Homo sapiens: one gene and its partners. The protein of the gene in region 1 interacts with the protein of each later gene in a pairwise test. Each region holds a gene or a part of one and is shown on either strand. Other genes may lie near its edges.

Region 1 (7,026 bases):
TAATGCCTACTTTGTGGGATTGTAAGGATTCCATGAGACCATTAACACATAGAAAGTGCTCAGTACTAGGGTGGAGCATAGTGGCTCACACCTGTAATCCCAGCAGTTTGGGAGGCCAAGGCGGGAGGATCACTAGACGTCAGGAGTTCGAGACCAGCTGGCCAACATGGTGAAACCCCATCTCTACTAAAAATACAAAAATTAGTGCAGCATGGTGGCGCATGCCTGTAGTCCTAGCTACTTGGGAGGCTGAGGCACGAGAATTGCTTGAACCCGGGAGCAGGAGGTTGCAATGAGCCGAGATCACATGACTGCACTCCAGCCTGGGTGACAGAGCGAGACTCCATCTCAAAAAGAAAAAGAAAAAAAAAAGTGCTCAGTACAGCATCTGGTGTGGGTAGGAATGCAGGAAATGATCATTGTCACCATCACTACTATTTCCTCCTTTGTGTTGGACTCTCAAAGGTCCCACCTCCTCCAGTGCTAGGGTGGGGAGTGAGTGCGACCCTGTCTCTTCTGCCTGTAGCCATCAGGACGGGGAAAGCCTCTCAGCCTGTCTCCTGGGGCGGGGGTGGGGGCTCACTCCTGGGAACTTGAGTCTAGCACCAGCTTTTCCCCGGGGAGTCTGTGAGCAGCCACTTAGCCTTTCTCAGCTGACTGCCATTTTCCAGGATTCATTGATTCATTCAAAAGACGTTTATTCCATCCCAGCCCTTGTGCTTAGCAAGGGATTTCAAGATGAATGAGGCAGCTCTCAGAGTTCTCCCTCTATGGGGAGAGGCAGGCCTGGAGACAGATAATGAGGACACTGTGGGATAAAGGCTGCAACAGCAAGAAGAGAGAGTGACGAGCAGATCCACATGGCTCAGGCTGACCCAGGTCTGAATCTTGAAGCTGCCACCTTGTAGCTGGGTGAGGATGGACAGAGGCCTTACCTCTCAAGCAGATAAGCCACCTCCCTAAGATGATGATGTGAGGAGAGAAGTGAGACACTGTGGATAAAAAACCTAGCTTGGACCAGGTGCGGTGGCTCATGCCTGTAATCCCAGCAATTTGGGAGGCAGAGGTGGGCAGACTGATTGACTCCAGGAGTTCGAGACTAGCCTGGGCAATATGGCAAAACCCCGTCTCTACAAAAAATACAAAAAATTAGCCAGGCATGGTGGTGTGCACCTGTAGTCCCAGCTACTTGGAAGGCTGAGGTGGGAGAATCACCTGAACGGGGGAAGTGGAGGCTCCTGTGAGCCATGATTGCGTGCACCTCTGCACTCTAGCCTGGGCAACAGAGTAAGACCTTGTTTCGAAAAAAAAAAAAAAAAAAAAACAAAACCAAAAAACTTAAAAACCCAGCTTGGGCTTTCTAGATATTAATAAGTGCTCACAGATGTTCGTTGCTATTATTAGTCTATTATTGCCAATAACAGGTGGGCAAAAGTTGCTGTGGGAGCATGTTGAGCCCTTCAGTGACAGTTTTCCAGGTGGTAGGGCAGCCCTAGCCGGGAGAACAGCATGTGCAGAGGCACCGAGGCTTAAAAGTGCTGGATGTTTTTGGAGAGCAGTGGGAGGAGTTGCTGATGGAGCAGAGTCATGAGAAAGTTTGATGGAGGCAGAAGCAAGGCCAGGGAGGTAGCAGAGGCTATCCTGCCGGGAGCCCCGAAGGATTAAACACTCACTGACCCGAGGCAGTCCCTCTGCACCTTCCTTGGAGGGTGGTTCTCTAGTGAGGGTTGTCCAGGAAACTTCAGGATTAACTTTTGCATGGGAGGAAGGGCTGGTCTCTGCTCAACTATCCATACATTCACCATCCTTCCCTCTTCATTCCACCCAGGAAGCACGAAGAAGAAGAGGTCCACTCCCTCTTCCTGAGATGCTTTTCCCACCTCTGCACTTGTTTCTCTCTTCCTGGGACTCAGTTTCTCACCTGAGAGAAGAGGGTAGAAGTGGAGGAAGCGTCATGACCTGACTCACTGATTGATCATGATATAGCACCAAGTGCATTTCTGGATGCTGGTCACTGTCAAAGGTCTTTACTTGCATCGCCATTGAATTCTCATACCAATCCGTTGAAATGAATGCACTTATCCCCCACTGCACAGAGGGAGAAACCGAGGCACAGAGGGTGAGGCAATTTGCTAAAGGGCATGCAGCTTGTAAGTGACAGGAACTCACGTCTTGGGGGGCATCTCAAAGTTGCCATGTGCTATCCTTCACCACCTTCTTCACACACTTTGTAAATCTAAGGCTGACTGCAGAATATCTGGCCTCTTTTGCTTTGTGTACCTTTGGGCGCTGGGCAGTAGGCATTTTGGAGATGGGTCACAGTGGGGTGTGCTCTGGGTATGTAACCTGACTTTGGGGAAATTCCTGGGTGCAGACGCTTTGTGGGGAGGTGTTCTTGGATGTCTCAGAATCTAGAATGGCATTCCTTCGCCCACAGATGTGCCTTGATGCAGGCAATGTGCAGCTTGATTGATGTGGCAAGATGGTGGCTGAGCCCCACGGTGGCCCCAGGAAGGAATGAATGAATCTTTTAGGATGGCTGATCAGAGCATCACATGACCACAGACCCTCCCTGTTTCAGAGGACATCCAAACACAGGCTTACATTTCCTTTTACATGGGGGCAAAGTTTGGGGCCAGGGTTCAAATGCTGGCTCTGCCTCCACTGGCTTTGGGGCCTAGGGAAATTTTTTCACTTCCTTGAACCTTAATTTCTTCATCTGGAAATAAAGATGAAGAAATAAGTTGCTAATTTTAGCATCTTCAATAAGTTGCTAAATAGTAACTCACAAACACAATTCTGAATTGTCATAAGGATTTGTAATCATATGGAAAATGCTTGGCTTCCAAGCTGTAGATAATATTGATGTAATATCCAGCAGATTTTTCTCTGCAGTACTTATAATTGTGATTATATGGTTATATGTGAGCATTACTCTTTTAGTCTTCTGTTTCATCCACTAGACCTGTGGTTCTCAACTTGGGGCAGTTTGACCCTCCCCAGGGGATATTTGGCAATGTCTAAAGACGTTTTTGGTTGTTACAACTTTTCGGGGGATAGTGGGGGAGAGGAGCTACTGACATCCAGTGAGTAGACACCAGGGGTGCTGCTAAATATCCTGTGGTGCACAGGAGAGCACCCCCACAACAGAAAATGATCTGATCCCAAATATCAATAGTGCTGAGGTTAAGAAAGACTACACTGGACGATGAGCCCCATAAGGTCCGTGACTGTGTCCAATTCATTCAGCTGTGTGTCTCCAGTTGGCCAGCGTGATCAGCATGATGTCCAGCACACAGGAGACAATCAATATGCATTAAAGGAATGAATGAGGACTTGGAAGGCCTTATGTCCCCTGGAGTCCCAGGGGTTTAGCTTGTGGAACATTTTGAATAGGCAGAAGAGATTTAGATGAACTTGAATGATGAACAGCCAATTAGTAACTCAGGCCAAAGACATTCAGACCGAGCTCTCTGTTTTCCTTCCCAAGCAGGTGCTTGGGGGCCCAGATTATCTGAATTGTTCCTGCCATCACCACTGCATTTTACCCATGTAGATACAGGACCCGTCTTTATCTGGAAAGTAGGCTGGGGCAGAGGAGCATAGGTGCTGTCAGCTGGGCCCTTGGGATTTGCCAAGCTGGGGCACAGCTGCTTGTCAGCTTCCTGTTTTGTCCCTTTCTAGTGGAATGAAGGAAACCCACTGAATGGCTATTTTCCACTGACATTTACAGCAATGTGATAGGCCTTGGATTAATGAGGTCAAACTGCAGTGTGAAATCTGCCTGATAACTTGAAGCTTGGCCAACGGGAAGACATCGCTTGTTTTCTTTGGACCGTTTGATGTCCCTGGATGGCTTTAGGCAGGAAAGCAGGGGTCTCAATTCTGTACGAAAGAGGAGGGTGTTTTACTTCCTGGAATTATAGAGGCCAGAGGTGTCTCTTTTTCAATTTATTGGGAAGGTTTATTTTAATATGGACTTAGAAATAAATAACTTATTAAAGTGAAGGTTCACCTGGAGCCTTAGGCTGGCTGCTAAGTGTGAGTCTGGGCTGTTGAAGGGACTGTGCTGTTCTTCTGGGTCTCTGTAGGAGTTTGAAGGAGAAGACTGGCCCCAAAGGGTGTTTGAACAGGTTAGATGTGCCCATTGGTTAGAACTTACTTGGATAGGGAGAAGGGATCTAGGGCGTATCCACAAACTTGCATATGGATCCCCTTTGGTTTCCTGCTAAAATGCAGAAACTGACTCAGTAGGGCTGGGTATGGAGTTTTCTGCATTTCTACCAAGCTCCCAGGGGGTGTCAAGCTGCTAGTCTGTGAACTGCACTTTGAGAAGCAAGGGTATGGGAGACCCCAAGTCTACAGGTGAGGGTTCCCTGGTGCAAACCGCTTAAGCATGAAAGCAAATGCAGCCTGTTGTGCCTGTTCACACAGCCATCTGCTGTGCTGGCTGGCTTGCGGAGTCACAGATGTTCACTGTGCCCCTTCTCTGTGTGCCCAGGCCTGGGACCAGACTTGACAAAGAGGATGCTTGGTCTCAAGGAGCAACTCAGACAGCCAGAATGTCAGCTAGAATGATGAGCTTTGAGTACTTTCAAAAACATGTATCCAGGTACATGGTGTTCCTGGGTCATCTGGTCACCTGGGACTTGTGAGAAGTACAGATGCCTGGGCCTTAGCCCAGTCCACCTGTGTTAGAATCAGCCAATATAGGGCCCTGAAAGTCTGTATTTTCTCAAAGTGTGCCAGGTGATTCTGATTCACAGCCAGACTGATGGAAGGGAAGGTGGGAGGAAGAACTGCCAGTACATGCAGGTTAATTGCTCAGCAGGACCTATGTAAGGTTGTAGAGTTGTGTATTGCTGATGGGCACAGTGGCACTCGGCTAAAGGAGAGGCTGAAATCTAGCCTGTGGATCCACTTGCCAAGCTCTGCACCCTGCAGGGTTGCATCTGCTTAGAGGGACGGGCACCTTTTTCTTAATATTCATCATAATCACTTGGTACTTATTATGAGCCAGGTGCTGTCTACTTAACTCCTTTAGTCCTCCTAACAACTCTAAGGGGTGACATCATCATCATCATCATTATTATTATTATTATTATTATTATTATTATTATTATTATTATTTTGAGACACAGTCTCACTCTGTCGTCCAGGCTGGAGGGCAGTGGTGCCATCTCGGCTCACGGCAACTTCTGCTTCCCGGGTTCAAGTGATTCTCCTGCCTCAGCCTCCTGAGTAGCTGAGATTACAGGCACCCGCCACCACTCCTGGCTACATTTTGTATTTTTAGTAGAGAAGGGGTTTCACCATGTTGGCCAGGCTGGTCTCAAACTCCTGACCTCAAGTGATCCACCCGGCTCGGCCTCCCAGGGTGTTGGGATTACAGGCATGAGCCACTGTGTCTGGCCAGGTGTGACTTTAGTGCTACTCTGATTTTACTGTTCAGGAAAGTGAAGCAGAGAGGTTCAATGTCTTACTCAAGGTCACACAGCCAGTAAATGGAAAAGTCAGGATTCCATTTCAGGACATCCGGCTTCAAAGTCCTTGTACTGAATCATTACACTCTCTGGCCCTTTCTTTGCATAAAAATGCTGTCTTCTCTTTATGGGGCTATCCCTACTCTGAGGGAGTACCTTTTTTCTTGTCCTTCCTTCAGAGGGGGGAAGGCTAGCAATGACCTTGGCTGGCTTTAGAGTCAGGTACGGGTTTGATTCCTACCTCCAGCACCTACTGCAACCTTGAGTAAGTTACATGTGTGTATTTGCTGAGCCACAATTTCCCCATATGTAAAACAGGAATAATAATAGTATAATATAAATTGATATGATTAGGCATTTAGCCTCTGCTTGGCAGGTAGGAGGTACCTGATACATGCCAACTATTCTTATGGCATTATTATCATTAGAGTTAGTCCCTAGGAGTATTCAGGAGCTAGGGAAATAGGTGAGCAAAGCACTGTGTCATTATGTCCCCAGGAGCTGGGTCATTCATTTTGTTCACTAGGTTACTTATGGCCATTACTTACCTGGGCATCCCTAGTCTCCTCCGCTTCTTGGCCCCAGAGTCTGTGCCAGCCTGGAGAGTTCTCAGAATGTCTTAGTTCAGACTCTTAGTCAGAACTGCCTTTGTTTCCTCACATCCAAGAACAAGTAAAACATACAAATTTTGACACTTATTCTCTTTAGGTCTCTTGACTCTTTTTGGTGACTTTCTCTGTCTCCTGTTTTCTTTCTGGAACTATTGCTGTCGTTGGCTATCCCATGGACTGGATAGAGAGGAAATGTTGCCTTATAAACATTGCCAATTACCTTATAAAAATATAGGGAAGATTTTCACCAAAATGTCATTCATTTTTTTTCTTTTATATATAAACTTAAGCTTTTGTTTTCCTATGGCTGTATGTCATGCTTTTTAATTACACAAAGTATATAAGTGTATCATAAGTAAACTTTCCCCATCTTCTCAGCCACTCATCCCTTTTCCCCGGAATAAATCTATAAATGTTTTATGTATTTTTCCATAAATTTCATATGCATATATAAACCCATATTCATTTACATGTTTATCCATTTTTCTTTTTAACACAACTATACAAAACTCTCCTGAGATCTTCTTTTTCAGCTAATTTATCTGAGCACATGCCAACACACAGATATACCTGGATCTTTAAGGCTATCTGATAGTCCAGTGATAAAAATGTACCATCATTTGTTTTCTAGTTTCTTGATGATGGCTAAGATAGTTTCCAGTTTTTTTCCTCCTACAAATGTATAATGTTGCAACATCCTTGTTTGAACAGTGTATATATCTTTGTATACTCTACATACTGATGATTTTATTCATAAGGAAAATTCCTGGCAGTTTCAACTGTGATAGACATTGCTAACCTGTTCTCCAAAGAGGCTGAACCAATTTCTGTTTCCTCAACAGTGTATGACTGTTTCCCCCATCTATTCTCCAGCACTGAGGATTAAGTAACTTTCATTTTTGTCAGTCTGACAGATATAAAGCAGAACATTT
Region 2 (7,026 bases), on another chromosome or scaffold:
TCACACTGTTAATTCCAATAAAGACAGAGTAGACAAACAGAAACTGTACATGAAAGGAATAGCATGAAGTTGTCGATTTTTAACAAGTATTATAAATAATGAAACGGTCTTTTCACTTTCAGATGAGAATTTTCCCTTTTTTTTTTGGTTCACTAGATAGTAGTTATCCTAATTCAGAAGTTCAACTAATGTAAATATCCATTGATTGAGAAATTTTGTATTTTTGTTGTTTTCAGTTACTTGTTGTAGTTTTCTTTTTGGTGAGTCTTATGATTGGCTTTATTGTAATAGAATGGAACACAAACTTTGAAAAAAAAAAAAAAAGGTCTTGCATTTTTGTCTAGACTATGCAGCTACCCAGTGGATCGCTGCTGAATGGAACAGGAAAGTGACAGATCCTTGGGCCTAATGTATCACTGTGTTGTGGAACTGGTCATTCATTAGAAGAGGTCCCTGTGTATCCTTTCTATCAGGTCCTTCTCATATAAATCTTGCTGCCTTTGTTGCATCTGTTAGACAAATCAGTTCGTTGCATTGAGGACACTTGAATATTTTACAGTTTTTTTTTTTTTTTTGGCAAATCTTGAAGCTTGTGACTATCTGAAACTCTTTTAATACCTTTTGAAGGATCAGAGCCCTGCGTACCCCAGGAATGCACACCGTTTTTTTGAAAGTGTGCTCTTTCCTTTTGTTCCTAATCAGTAATTATAGCCCCCTAATGGTACCTCTGGAGCAGATGCAGAAGTCAAAGATGCAGAAGGAGGAATTAGCTAGTCAGACACAGGCTCGCAGCAGTGGTGGGGCTGAACACAATAGCACAGGGACTAATGCAGTTGCTGCTGGAAGCAGTTTATTCCTATCACCAACCCTCTCCATTCCTTGTATGTATTTCCATTAAATCCATAAATGGGGTGCTCCTCCTCCTTTAAACCATTTATGTTAAAAGAAGCTTCTGGGCCAGCAGGGCTGTTTGAATTTTGTAGAATGGTGAGAAGGCCAAAAGAAAAAGACTGAAATTGACACACTGTCCCTCTTAGTGCCTCTGCAGGGACTGAACTCAGTGGCTATTATGTAGCTACAACATAGGCACACTTTCATAAGTATTGTCTGTGTTTCTCTAGTCTGGGTGTTTTCCTTGCGTATTAGTTCTGAGTGCTAAACAACAACAAAAGGTGTCTTTGAAAAGATAAGGTGGCAAACATTGTTTAACATACCTCCTTGAGAAAAGTTTCAATATTTTCCCCAAGAATGATGTCAGAGTTAGGCTTTGCTAGTGCTGCACTACGTGTGGCTGGTAAAAAAATTGTTAGTGGAACTCTACTTCTGTAAGTGTTGTTCTTGTTTGTCCCTTGCAGTGATTTTATTAGATGGTGGGAAAGTGTTTGTATTAACCCTTCAGCATCACTGAACTTGGGGTATCCCATTTCTGTATTTATGTTACACTTCCTTTGATTGAACCATTATTTTCTAATTATTTTTAATCAAGAAGCATTAAAATAAGGATGAAAGTAAATAGATTAAGGATTACCAGTTTCCTAAATGGAACCTGACTAAATGTAAAATTAAGTCAACACACCCACACAGAGAATTCCACGAAGCTAAGTAGCTTTTGAATACACAACTCTGTATATGCTAGTGCAGTGGTCAAAGTGTGAGATGGAGGACCTGAGACCCTTTCACGGGTCCATGAGGGCGAATGTAATGTCATAATAATACTAAGATTATTTGCCCTTTTTGCTGTGTTGATATTTGCACTGATTGTGCAAAAGCCAAAGTGGAGAAAACTGCTGATCTTTAGCATGAATCCAGGTGGTAGCAACAAACTGTATTAGTAGTCATTGCATTCACCTCCATGCACTCAATTTAAAAAGAAAATGTCAGTTTCACATAAGAATGTTCTGATGAAACAGTAAAAATTATTAAGTCTCAACTGTTAAGGACATCTTTTTAATATACTGCATGATGAAATGGGAAGTACATGTGAAACATTTTTGCATAACCATGTACAATGATCATCTGGTTAGCTGAAGGAAAAGATCCTGTGTATAGTGAGACTATGTTCCAGGGCTAGAAAGAACTGCAAAGAAATCTTGAACTGCACTGTTTGTTGTTGGTAGTATATTGGTGGCGTCAGTTTGGCGCTATTTTGTGTTTATTGTAGATAGAGCACCACATGGATAAGTATATTAAAAATTTTGGGAATCGAGGGTTTTCCTTGTGGTGGAACGGCGATGCTAATGTGAGATGAGGGAGAGATGAGGGAGCAGAGGAAGAAGCCTCCGTGTTGGATTTGAATTCAGGGTGTCACCATGAACTTGTGATTTACCTATTTAAAATATCCTTGCTCTGTCCAAAGAGCCTACAAGCAGTGATACTTAATTAACCGAGATGCATTGTGTTCTCCGAGCTTGGTTTTTAAATGCCATTTCCCAGTGAAAGGTTTCAGGGCTCCTTGGAGAAATGGCTGATTTGAGGTCTGGGACAGGAAACATACAAGGTTAGCTTGCCATGCTTGTGTCAGAAAGCAAGGAGGTGTTGAAAGACCCTTAGTGCCATGTCAGAAAGACAGAGGATGACTTTCCAAGAAGCTCCCAATGGCCAAATTTGGGACAGTCAGCATTATGAGAGTATGGATTATAACACATTTAATAATAATTTTTAGAAATCCATGGATATACATGGTAGAAGAAAAGGGGGAGAGTGAGAGAAAGACTATATTATACAAGAATGCCAGCTACTTTGTGAAGGAGAGAGAAAATCTGAAAATTTCTCTTTTGCAGTCCCTAATGTAATAATTCATTCAAGGGTGCCCTGGCTCATGCCTGTAATCCCAGCACTTTGGGAGGCTGAGGTGAGAGGATCACTTGAGGCAAGGAATTTGAGACCAGCCTGGGTAACATAGACCCTGTCTTTATTAAAATAAAAAATATAAAAAAAAAGAATTGTCAATGGACGCTGAAACTGTTGAGCAAGATGTTATCAGGGAGGCTATTCACAGAATCTCAAGTCTCACTCTGCATATTCCTTATTAGTGACAAAGGAGAAAGGGTGTTTTTTGTTGTTGTTATTGTTTTTTGTTTTGTTTTGTTTTAAAAGCGAAGAACAAATCAGGCTGATTCCACCTTAACTTATTGACCAAACAGCAACATCACTAAAAAAAGAGACAGCCAGACCTTATGTGCTTTCCAAAGGAAGAACATAGCACTTCCTAAAAAGTAGTCTTGGCAAAAGCAAGCCAACTAGAAGTAAAGCCTCCGGATTCAACTCCCAAATTGTAAACCCAAATGAGTCTGTTAAACACCACCTTGGGGATGCAAAAAAAATAAAACTTCAGACTTGGACAGACTCCACAGTCAAGTGACCCAGCTTCTTCAAAAATAAACTGCAAGAGAAAAGAGATAAAGGAGTGATGAGAAGGGATTTAAGAGCCATGTTGATCAGTGTGAACCTTATTTGGATCATGATGCAGATAAACTAAGTTTTTAAAAAATGAGGCAGAAGAACTGTGAATACAGACTGCACATTTGATGATGATACAGAGTGACATGATACTATGTCTACAGTTGCCTCACAATAATTTAGAAGAAGGGGAGTTGGGTCGGGATCCAGGGGAAGCACAGTTAGCCTTGGGCAGATAATTACGGGGAGGATCAATGTGTGCTCATTACAATATCTTCCCATCTACTTTTGAAATATCTTTGAAAGTTTTTATAATGAAAAATTTTTTAAAAATTACTAATTAATAGTGGGATAACTTGACATTTTGTGCCCCCTTATGCAATGCATTGAGGAGTACATGTCACCTATGTAGAATGGTGACAAAAATACATAACCTGAATCTAATCATGAGGAAACACTCAGATAAGCTCAGAATACATGACATTCTACAAGGCAGTTGTCATGGTCTATCTAAAAAGAAAGTCAGTGTTGTGAAAAACAACAAAAAACAGTGTCATAAAAATCAAATAGAACAGTTGCAGATATTAAAATATAGAGTTACAGTAAATCGTACTATTGAATTAATGTTAATTATTTTCGGTACAATTATGGTTTTGTGGTTCTATGGGAGAATGTCCTTATCCGTGGGAGATATGTGCTGAATTATATTCGGGCCAATCAATACAATGTTTGCAAATTACTTTAATCAATGTGTGGGAATATATGGATTAGGTTGGCTCATATTAAATTGCTATTTTCCTAAGTTAAAAACAGCCAAATATCAGCAAATGCCCATGGTTCAACCTAATATTTGTTGAAACAGAGAAAGAAAGCAAATGCAGTGACCAATAATGGGTCTAGATAAAGAATCAACAGGTGTTTGTACTATTTTTTCACATTTCTGTGTGTTTGAACTTTTTTAAAACAAAGAATTGGGAGAAAATAGTCAACTTACAAAAATGAACTCCAGCAGATACATATTTGTGGATTAAGTGTGCTGACATTGTTCTCTCTGGGATCAATTATCCCCTAATAGCATTTGAATTCTGTTAGAATTAATCCCCAGCTACTTAAGTTGACTTACAATATAGAAAAGAAGAAAAGCTACTTATTTCATTGTATGAACTTTCTACTTTCTGAATCAGCCTATGACAAAGAAGAGAAAAATAAATAGTGTAGGTGAACATTAAGAAAAGTGCTTAATGATATTTTATGGCATCTTTTTTATGTAGATGACATTTAAAGATGCATCCACTGTAGGAGAAAAAAGAGATCATTGGTTCTTAGAAACAATTTTTCTTTTTGTCAAGAGATCAAACATGTCTTCTCTCTGGCCTGGTTTTAACATTCTCTGTAAAATAGGGTGTATATCTAGAATTTTAAGTTTTATCTCCCCCACCCACCCCACACCTTATTTTGCCATGAGTTCTTAGCTGAAGAGTGTTTTGCTGAGGGTTACTGGGGACTTCTGGGCAACCGTGGCAGTTGGATGAAGTGATGAGATCTCTCCTCCCCTCCAGAAAATGTCCCTAAGTGATTAGCAAGAACCCCTGGTTTAATCCTGCCTCTTTTGAATCCAAAACAGATCCCTAAAGAAGTGGCTGACATCTTTAACGCCCCCAGTGATGATGAAGAGTTTGTTGGCTTCCGAGATGATGTTCCCATGGAAACCCTCTCGTCAGAGGAGAGCTGCGATAGTTTTGACTCACTAGAGTCAGGGAAACAGGTATGGATGATTCCTTCCAAGCAGATGTGTTCATCTGGAGGCCTGAATCTTGGTTTGGATGTTCTTTTATTTGAACATGGTGTGAGATTGGTGATATCAGTTCATTGTCTAGCATTTTATTTTAGAAACATTATGTCTGTGTCTTCCTGTTTTAAAAAACTGGTGAGAGAACCTCGTTCACTTTGCTGTGTTAATCCTTCCCTGTACCATAATTCTTTTTTTTTTTTTTTTTTTTTTTTAAATAAAGGGACCTCACATGATCAAGTGCATTTTCTTGGCTGCCTTGGGGCTGTAACCTGTGGCGAGGCTGTGTTCAGGGTCTTCCCACAGAGGCGAGGCTGCGGCGAGGCATGAGGGATTGTGTGGTTACGGGGAGACAATTACACCTCTGTGGTCCCGTGGTGCAATTCTGTTGGCATGTCCTCTTGGAATTGCTGGGGAGAGCCTTATTCTTGCGTTAATTACTTTGATCTCTAGCACTCACAAGTTAGAGTTCTCTGACAGGTAGATTCCTGGAGGTTCACATTGTGTCCTAGTAGTAGAATGGCCAAAATCTCTACCCTTCAGTGGCATTTTCTTCTGAGTTAATTGTGGCACTCAAAATTCCTCATTCTGCCTTGACCATGGCCTCTCCAAAAAGGCAGCAAATTAAACCCACTTTGCTTCCACTGGGCAAGTCCAGGAAGGGAAGCAGTTAATTATATGTAAGTGAAGTGCCTGCTTAATTACGTGGGCCACTGTAAGTTCTGGCCTGGTGGGAGCTGTGCTTTCTGAGATCTCTGGAGGCTCCCTGGTCTCTGTCGTCCTCATCTCATTTGGCATCTCCACAGCAGTTGACCCCACCAGTAGACCTCCTTCTAACCACCTGGGTTTCTTCCTCTCTGTTACACCTTTTGCTCTTTGTTATTATTATTTTCTTTCTTTCCAAGATGGAGTATCATTGTGTCACCCAGGCTGGAGTGCAGTGGCATGATCTTGGCTCACTGCAACTTCTGCCTCCCGGGTTCAAGCAATTTTCCCAGCCTCAGCCTCCCGAGTAGCTGGGATTACAGGCTCCCACCACCACGCCTGGCTAATTTGTGTGTGTGTGTGTGTTTTTTTTTTTTTTTTTTTTTTTTAGTAGTGATGGGGTTTTGCCATATTGGCCAGGCTGGTCTCAAACTCCCGACCTCAGGTGATCTGCCCGCCTTGGCCTCCGAAAGTGCTGGAATTAGAGGCGTGAGCCACTGTACCTGGCCTGCTTTTTGTTACTGTCACTTGTTTTCCCTGTTCGTGTCCCTAAATGCAGATGTTCTCTAAGGGTTTGTCTTCAGTCTTCTCACTTAGTGAATCTTGTCTGTTGTCCTGCTTTGAGCTGTTACTGTATTCTTTTGTGGAGCTTGTCTTCTCTCTCCAGCCCCAGGTGGTTTCTGACTACCAGTTGGACTGGTCCTGGTTGCTAAGGGAGATCTGAAACTCACTTCTCCTTCCCTTGGTTGTCTTTCTGGCTTCCCCCTTTCCCCATCTTGATTTCCATCTTTTGTTCTTGGCCTTCCCTCCCCTCTTCCATCTCCTTGACTCCCGTCCAGGAGTTGATGAAACTTCTGCTGTGTTCCTGGTGTCCATCCTTCCCTTCCCTCTGCAGCTGCCGTAGCCCTCGTAGCTCTTACCCGAATGCTCATCCCTTCCTACTAGGATCTGTTATAGGATTGACCTCCGGTCAGCTCCTCCCTTAGCCCTCCATCTGAGCACAGTCAGGCGGTGGGGAGAGCAGAGCCTGTTGGATCCACCTTGAGGAGCATTTGAGCAAGGCAGAACATGTCTAAAGGGCCGAGCACAGAGCCTGGCAGGCACCGGGCATTAAGAAACAGAACAGCTGCTTC
Region 3 (7,026 bases), on another chromosome or scaffold:
CGAGTGATGAATTCCTGGACATTCTTTTTTTTTTTTCCTCCCCAGGAGACAGGTCCTCTTTCGATTGATTGATTTTTTTTTTTTTTTTTTGGGATGGAGTCGTGCTCTGTCGCCCAGGTTGGAATGCAGTGGTGCAATCTCAGCTCACTGCAGCCTCCGCCTCCCGAGTTCAAGAGATTTTTGTACCTCAGCCTCCCCAGAAGCTGGGACAACACCATGCCCGGCTAATTTTTGTATTTTTAGTAGACGGGGTTTCACCACGTTGGCCAGGCTGGCCTTGAACTCCTGACCTCAAGTGATCCGCCTGCTTCAGCCTCCCAAAGTGCTGAGCCACTGGCCTGGCCTGTTTTGTTTTGTTTTGAGAGAGGATCTTGCTCTGTTGCCCAGGCTGGAGTGCAGTGGCTGGATCATAGCTCACTGCAGCCTCCAACTCCTGGGCTCAAGCGATCTTCCCACCTCAGCCTCCCAGAGTGCTGGGATTACAGGTACGTGCCACCACGCCCAGCCCTCACTGGAGGCCCTTCTGTCATCAGCTGCCTCAGGTTGCTGCCAAACCCAGGGAAAGATTTCAGTGGATGTTCAATATTATTATTGTTATTATTCTCTGCTGACATCTTGTCTAGGCAGCACTTTATCATTATTATCAGCTGTTTGATCTGGGGCCCACACTTTCCTCCTGCTGAGCCTCCTCTCCCCTATCCGTTAAAAGGGATGATCCTGGCCAGGCACTGTGGCCCACGCCTGTGATTCCAGCACTTAGGGAGGCCGAGGTGGGCGGATCACCTGAGGTCAGAAGTTTGAGACCAGCCTGGCCAACATGGAGAAACCCAATCTCTACTAAAAATACAAAAAAAAAATTAGCCAGGCATGATGGCACATGCCTGTTGTCCCAGGTTGGGAGGCTGAGGCAGAAGAATCGCTTGAATCCGGGAGGTGGAGGTTGCAGTGAGCCAAGATTGCGCCACTGCACTCCAGCATGGGTGACAGAGACTCCGTCTCAAAATAACAACAACAACAAAAACAAAAACCCAGAAAGTGGTGATCGTAAATGTGAGCTTTCTTGGCTTTCCTGGAAGGTTAACTGCTTAGCCAGGCAATCTGACTCAGATTTGACGGCGAAGACAATGAAAGTGTGTGCTTTTGTTCCAGGCCCTGCAAATGGTCCCCAGTGGGGCAGGTTCACCAGTTTCCTTGTCTCCACTCTCTGGAGGTTCATATTTAACATTATTGGTTTTTGGAGAAGTGGGAGAGGACAGAGGGAACCCAGGTTAGGGGGCTGGGGGAATAGGACCTTCAGGAATTACTCTAGCCTTGAAATCCTGGATTCTCCACTGCCAGCCTGTGTGTGATCCCGGGTAAGTCACACTTTCGAGCCTGAAGATGTTCTCTAAACTGTAAGCATCAGGCAAAAGCAGTGTCTCATGCCTGTAATCTCAGCAATTTGGGAGGCTGAGGCAGGAGGATCTGCTCAGGCCAGGAGTTCAAGACCAGCCTGGGCAACATGGCAAGACACCTCTCTCTACACAAAAATTTAAAAAATTAGCTAGGCGTTGTGGCACACCTGTAGTCCCAGCTACTTGGGAGGCTGAGGTGGGAGGATGGCTTGAGCTCAGGAGGTCGAGGCTGCAGTGAGCTATGATTGTGCCACTGCACTCCAGCCTGGGTGACAGAGTGACATGCTGTCCCTAAGACCAAAACCAAAACCAAAATGTAAGCATCATAGTAATACAGTCTCTACCTCCCAAGGTTGTGCTGGGGATTTAATGACTACCTGTATAGAGAAGGCTTGTGTATTAGTTAACTATTGCTGGGTAACACTTATCCTAAAATTGAGCAGCTTCAAACAATAAACATTTCTGATCTCTTATAGTTTCCAAGGGACAGGAATCCAAGAGTGGCTTAACTGGATTATTCCGGCTCAGGGTGTTCCATGTGGTTGTGGTCAGATGTCGGCCAGGACTGAAGTCACTTAATGGCTTGGCTGAGGCTGGGGAACTAACCTCCATGGTAGCTTACTCTCATAGCTGTTGGCAGGAGGCCTCATTTCTTTGCCACATAGACCTCTCCGTGGGATGGCTTGAGCATCCTCACAACATGGCGGCTGGCTTTCCTTAGAGCTAGCCTTGGAAGCCACGCTCTGTCATTTCTGCAATATCCTGTTGGTTACACACGTCAGCCAGCTTGTTAGTAGGGACTACACAGGGCATGAATATCAGGGGGTAAGGATTATTGGGAGTTACCTTGGAGGCAGTTTGATTTTGGGGATTTAATGTAGCTGCTTTTGATTTTATTGTCAGCACTGAGCCTTCTCGTGACATTCCTACCAGGTTTTACTTGTTCTTTCTGCTTTTCTCCATGATCAATCTGCTATGGTCACACAGGGTGCCTTGTTTCTTCTCCAACAAGACCAAGTTGGAGACCCTGTCTTGCTCAGGGTGACGGTGTGAGATTCCAGCCTCCAAGCCTTTGCACCTGCTGTTTTTTTAATTTTTTTTTTTTGCCTGGAAATCTCTATTCCAGATCCACACAAATTCCTAGATGCCTCACCCACCCCAAATGCCTTCACTCTCATAACAACCTGTTTTATTTTCCTGGGAGTTCTTGAAACTTTCTGAAGGCTTTTTTTTTTTTTTTTTTTTTGACAGAGTCTTGCTCTGTTGCCCAGGCTGGAGTGCAGTAGTGCCATCTCAGCTCACTGCAACCTCCGCCTCCCGGGTTCAAGCGATTCTCAAGTAGTTGGGATTACAGGCACCCATCATCATGTCTGGCTAATTTTTGTATTTTAGTAGAGATGGGGTTTCACCATGTTGGCCAGGCTGATCTCAAACTCCTGACCTCAAGTGATCCTCATAACTCAGCCTCCCAAAGTGTTGGGATTACAGGCAAGAGCCCCTGCTCCTGGCCATGGCATCTTTATTAAAAAAAAAAAAAAAAAAAAAAAAAAAAAAAAAAAGGCAGGGCGTGGTGGCTCACGCCTGTAATCCCAGCACTTTGGGAGGCCGAGGCGGGTGGATCACATGAGGTCAGGAGTTCGAGACCAGCCTGGCCAACATGGTGAAACCCCATCTCTACTAAAAATACAAAAATTAGCCAGGTATGGTGGCAGGCCCCTGTAGTCTCAGCTACTTGGGAGGCTGAGGCAGGAGAATCACTTGACCCTGGGAGGCAGAGGCTGCAGTGAGCCGAGATCAAGCCATTGCACTCCAGCCTGGGGGACAAGAGTGAGACTTCATCTCAAAAAAAAAAAATTTTTTTTTCCTTGTTTGTTATTGGTTTCTCTAGGAACGGAACCAAGAAGTTCAATTCTATGAGAACAGAGAAGCTGCGGTCTTATTTCTTCCTATATTCCTAGTTCCTAGAGCAGGGAAGGCATTCAAAAAATATTTACTGAATGAACAGTAGAATCTCAACTTAAAATAAACAGAATCTGTCCCCCTCCTCATGTGAGGGATGAGAAGGAAAGGACAGTGAGAGGAACGGAAGAGTGGGAGCTCACAATAAACACCATCCATTTTTAATTCTTTTTCTTATGTTTCAAATATTTATTGGGGGTGCTGGGGACATGGCAGGAACCGAGATATTACCAGTCCCTGAACTCAGGTAACTGATAGAATTTGAGGGAGAGAGATAGATAAACAAACATATAAATATGTCGTTTAATACAAGCTGTGTCTTGAAGAAAAGGAGGTAGGGAGCGTGTGTGTGTGTGTGTAAAATCCAGTTTAGGGGCGTAGGTTGCTTTCTCTGGGGAAAGTAGCTGAGCTGAGACGTGGAGGAGAAGGGGTTAGCTGGTGAGAGGGGCTTTGGGGTGGGGGAGAGGCGTTCCTAGCCCAGGAAACGGCTTATGCAAATAGCTGTGGAGGGTGAGAGGTTTTCTGAGTCCATCCTAATGAGGGCAATGAGGAACCCTCAGAGGGTTTTCATGTTCTGTTTGCTTTTTTGAAGATTTTATTGTTGTTTTTGCTTTTGACAAGAACACACACACACACACACACACACACACACACACACACACACACACACAATTAAAAAGTAATCCAAACTATAGAGACAAGATATGGCTTTAGCATTCCTTCCCAGAGGCAGTCACTGGTGCCAGTAGCTTGCTTCCTTCCTGGGAATTTTCTACGCATATACAAGTGTATATTCTACACATGAGTAAAATCAATGCCTCATTTTGTTTATTAATTCATAATTATAATACTTATTATTTTTGAGATGGAGTCTCACTCTGCCTCCCAGGCTGGAGTGCACTGGCATAATCTCGGCTCACTGCAACCTCCACCTCCCAGGTTCCAGAGGGTCTCCTGCCTCCGCTTCCCAAGTAGCTGGGATTACAGGCATGCACCACCATGCCTGGCTAATTTTTGTATTTTTATTTTATTGTATTTTTATTTTTAAATTTACTTTATTATTATGACTCTTTTTTTGAGATGGAGTTTCGCTCTTGTTGCCCAGGCTGGAGTGCAATGGCGTGATCTCGGCTCACTGCAACCTCTGCCTCCCGGGTTCAAGTGATTCTCCTGCCTCAGCCTCTGGAGTAGCTGGGATTACAGGCGCCCACCACCACGCCTGCCTAATTTTGTATTTTTAGTAGAGACAGGGTTTTGCCATGTTGGCCAGGCTGGTCTTGAACTCTTGACCTCAGGTGATCCATCTGCCTCGGCCTCCCAAAGTGCTGGCATTACAGGCGTGAGCAACTGCACCTGGCCTATTTATTGTTATTATTGAGACAAGGTCTTCCTCTATTGCCTAGGCTGGTGTGCGGTGGCATGCTCATAGCTCACTGCAGTCTCCAAATCCTGGGCTCCAGTGATCCTCCTGCCTCAGCCTCCTGAGTAGCTGAGACTACAGGTGCGGACCACCATGCCTGACCAATTTTTGTATTTTTTTTTTTGTGGAGACAGCGTTTTGCCATGTTACCCAGGCTGGTCTCGAACTCCTGGGCTCAAGCAATCTGCCCACCTTGACCTCCCAAAGTGCTGAGATTATAGGTGTGAGACACAGCACCTGGCCATCTGCATTGTTTTAAAAATCACAAATGGTTGCGAGGTATACATACTGCCCAGCACCATACTTGTTTCCTTTGAATATATAAATATTATAATTTTATAATATTTATAATATATAATAACACAAATAATAATAAATATATATGGTTTGGTCATATACAATATATAAAATAACATTCACAAACACTTATTGTCAAAGTGCAATTAAATGGGAAAAAAAGAAAAACATTTGGCCAGGTGTGGTGGCTCATGTCTGTAGTCCTAGCACTTTGGGAGGCTGAGGTGGGAAGATCACTTGAGCCCAGGAGTTGGAGGCTGCAGTGAGCTATGGCAACGCCGCTGCACTCCGGCCTGGATGACAGAGGGAGACCTTGTCTCTTAAAAAACCCCAAAAAACAAATCTGATTCTCTGACGCATATATAATAAGCACAGGTCAAAGATTTATTTAAGTCATGAATGAAGGAACCAGCTGTTTCAAAGGAGAATTTGGGCCGGGTGCAGTGGCTCACGCCTGTAATCCCAGCACTTTGGGAGGCTGAGGTGGGTGGATCACGAGGTCAAGAGATTGAGACCATCCTGGCCAACATGGTGAAACCCCGACTCTACTAAAAATACAAAAATTAGCTGGGCGTGGTGGCGGGTGCCTGAGGTCAGGAGTTCGAGACCAGCTTGGCTAACAATGGTGAAACCTTGTCTTTACTAAGAATACAAAAAATTAGCTGGGTGTGGTGGCTCATGCCTGTAATCCCAGCTACTTGGGAAGCTGAGGCAGGAGAATAACTTGAACCCAGGAGGTGGAGTTTGCAGCAAGCCGAGATTGTGCCACTGCACTCCAGCCTGGGCGACAGAACAAGACTCCATTAAAAAAAAAAAAAAGGAGAATTTGATGAACAGAAGTTGATAGGTTTAGTCAGGAAAGACGGGCTGGAGAAAATTTGCCAGGTTAGATACAAAACTGGTTAAAGACCTACAGGACAATACAACTGTAACCTTTGAGGTTACCTTTTCTACCAGAGAGAAATCATTTGCAACCAAACTTCCTGGGGTTACCATTTACCTTGTCGAAGTCTAGACTCTAATCAATAATGAATAACAGACCGGGTGTAGTGGCTGACGCCTGTAATCCCAGCACTTTGGGAAGCCGAGGCAGGCGGATCACGAGGTCAGGAGTTCGAGACCAGCCTGGCCAACATGGTGAAACCCCGTCTCTACTAAAAATACAAAAATTAGCCGGGCATGGTGGCGCATGCCTGTAATCCCAGCTCCTCAGGAGGCTGAGGCAGGAGAATCGCTTGAACCCAGGAGGCAGAAGTTGCAGTGAGCCGAGATCGCGCCACTGCACTTTAGCCTGGGCGACAGAGCAAGACTCTGTCTCAAAAAAAAAAAAAAAAAAAAAGAATAGTAAATCAAATACAGGTACAGTCCCTTAGAATAGGGTCCCCAACCCCCGGTTTGTAGTCTGTTAGGCATGGGGTTGCACAGCTGGTGAGCAAGCATTACTGCCTGAGCCCCGCCTCCTGTCAGATCAGCGGTGGCTCTAGACTCTCACAGGAACGTGAACCCTATTGTGAACTGCACGTGCGAGAGATCTAGGTTGTACACTCCTTATGAAAATCTAAGGCACTGCCCACTCCCATCCATGGAAAAATTATCTTCTACGAAACCAGTTTTTGGTGCCAAAAAGGTTGAGGACTGCTGCCTTGGAATATGAAGCAAACTTTGGGTGGGTCTGTTAGACAAGACTCCCAGATGACTTGGAAATGGCATGCTGTCAGCTTTTTTTGTCTTATTGCCGAGCCTAGAACTTTTTTTAATTTTTATTTTTTTTGAGATGAAGTCTTGCTCTTGTCTCCCAGGCTGGAGTGCAGTGGCACGATCTGGGCTCACTGCAACCTCTGCCTCCCGGGCTCAAGCGATTCTCCTGCCTCAGCCTCCAGAGTAGCTGGGATTACAGGCGCCTGCCACCACGCCCGGATAATTTTTGTATTTTAGTTGAGACGTTTCACCATGTTG

Evidence for each region.
Region 2: the proteins of PPP1R16B (region 1) and CDCA7L interact in binary tests that used the Homo sapiens proteins (3 or more experiments, as listed by UniProt).
Region 3: the proteins of PPP1R16B (region 1) and CRX interact in binary tests that used the Homo sapiens proteins (3 or more experiments, as listed by UniProt).

Annotation. Positions count from the first base shown.
Region 1 is NC_000020.11:38,808,683-38,815,708, forward strand, and holds part of PPP1R16B (protein phosphatase 1 regulatory inhibitor subunit 16B isoform 1 precursor), read left to right. Parts: intron 1-7,026. UniProt on the Homo sapiens protein: Regulator of protein phosphatase 1 (PP1) that acts as a positive regulator of pulmonary endothelial cell (EC) barrier function. Involved in the regulation of the PI3K/AKT signaling pathway, angiogenesis and endothelial cell proliferation.
Region 2 is NC_000007.14:21,914,892-21,921,917, reverse strand, and holds part of CDCA7L (cell division cycle-associated 7-like protein), read left to right. Parts: intron 1-5,023; coding exon 5,024-5,164; intron 5,165-7,026. UniProt on the Homo sapiens protein: Plays a role in transcriptional regulation as a repressor that inhibits monoamine oxidase A (MAOA) activity and gene expression by binding to the promoter.
Region 3 is NC_000019.10:47,824,919-47,831,944, forward strand, and holds part of CRX (cone-rod homeobox protein), read left to right. Parts: intron 1-7,026. UniProt on the Homo sapiens protein: Transcription factor that binds and transactivates the sequence 5'-TAATC[CA]-3' which is found upstream of several photoreceptor-specific genes, including the opsin genes.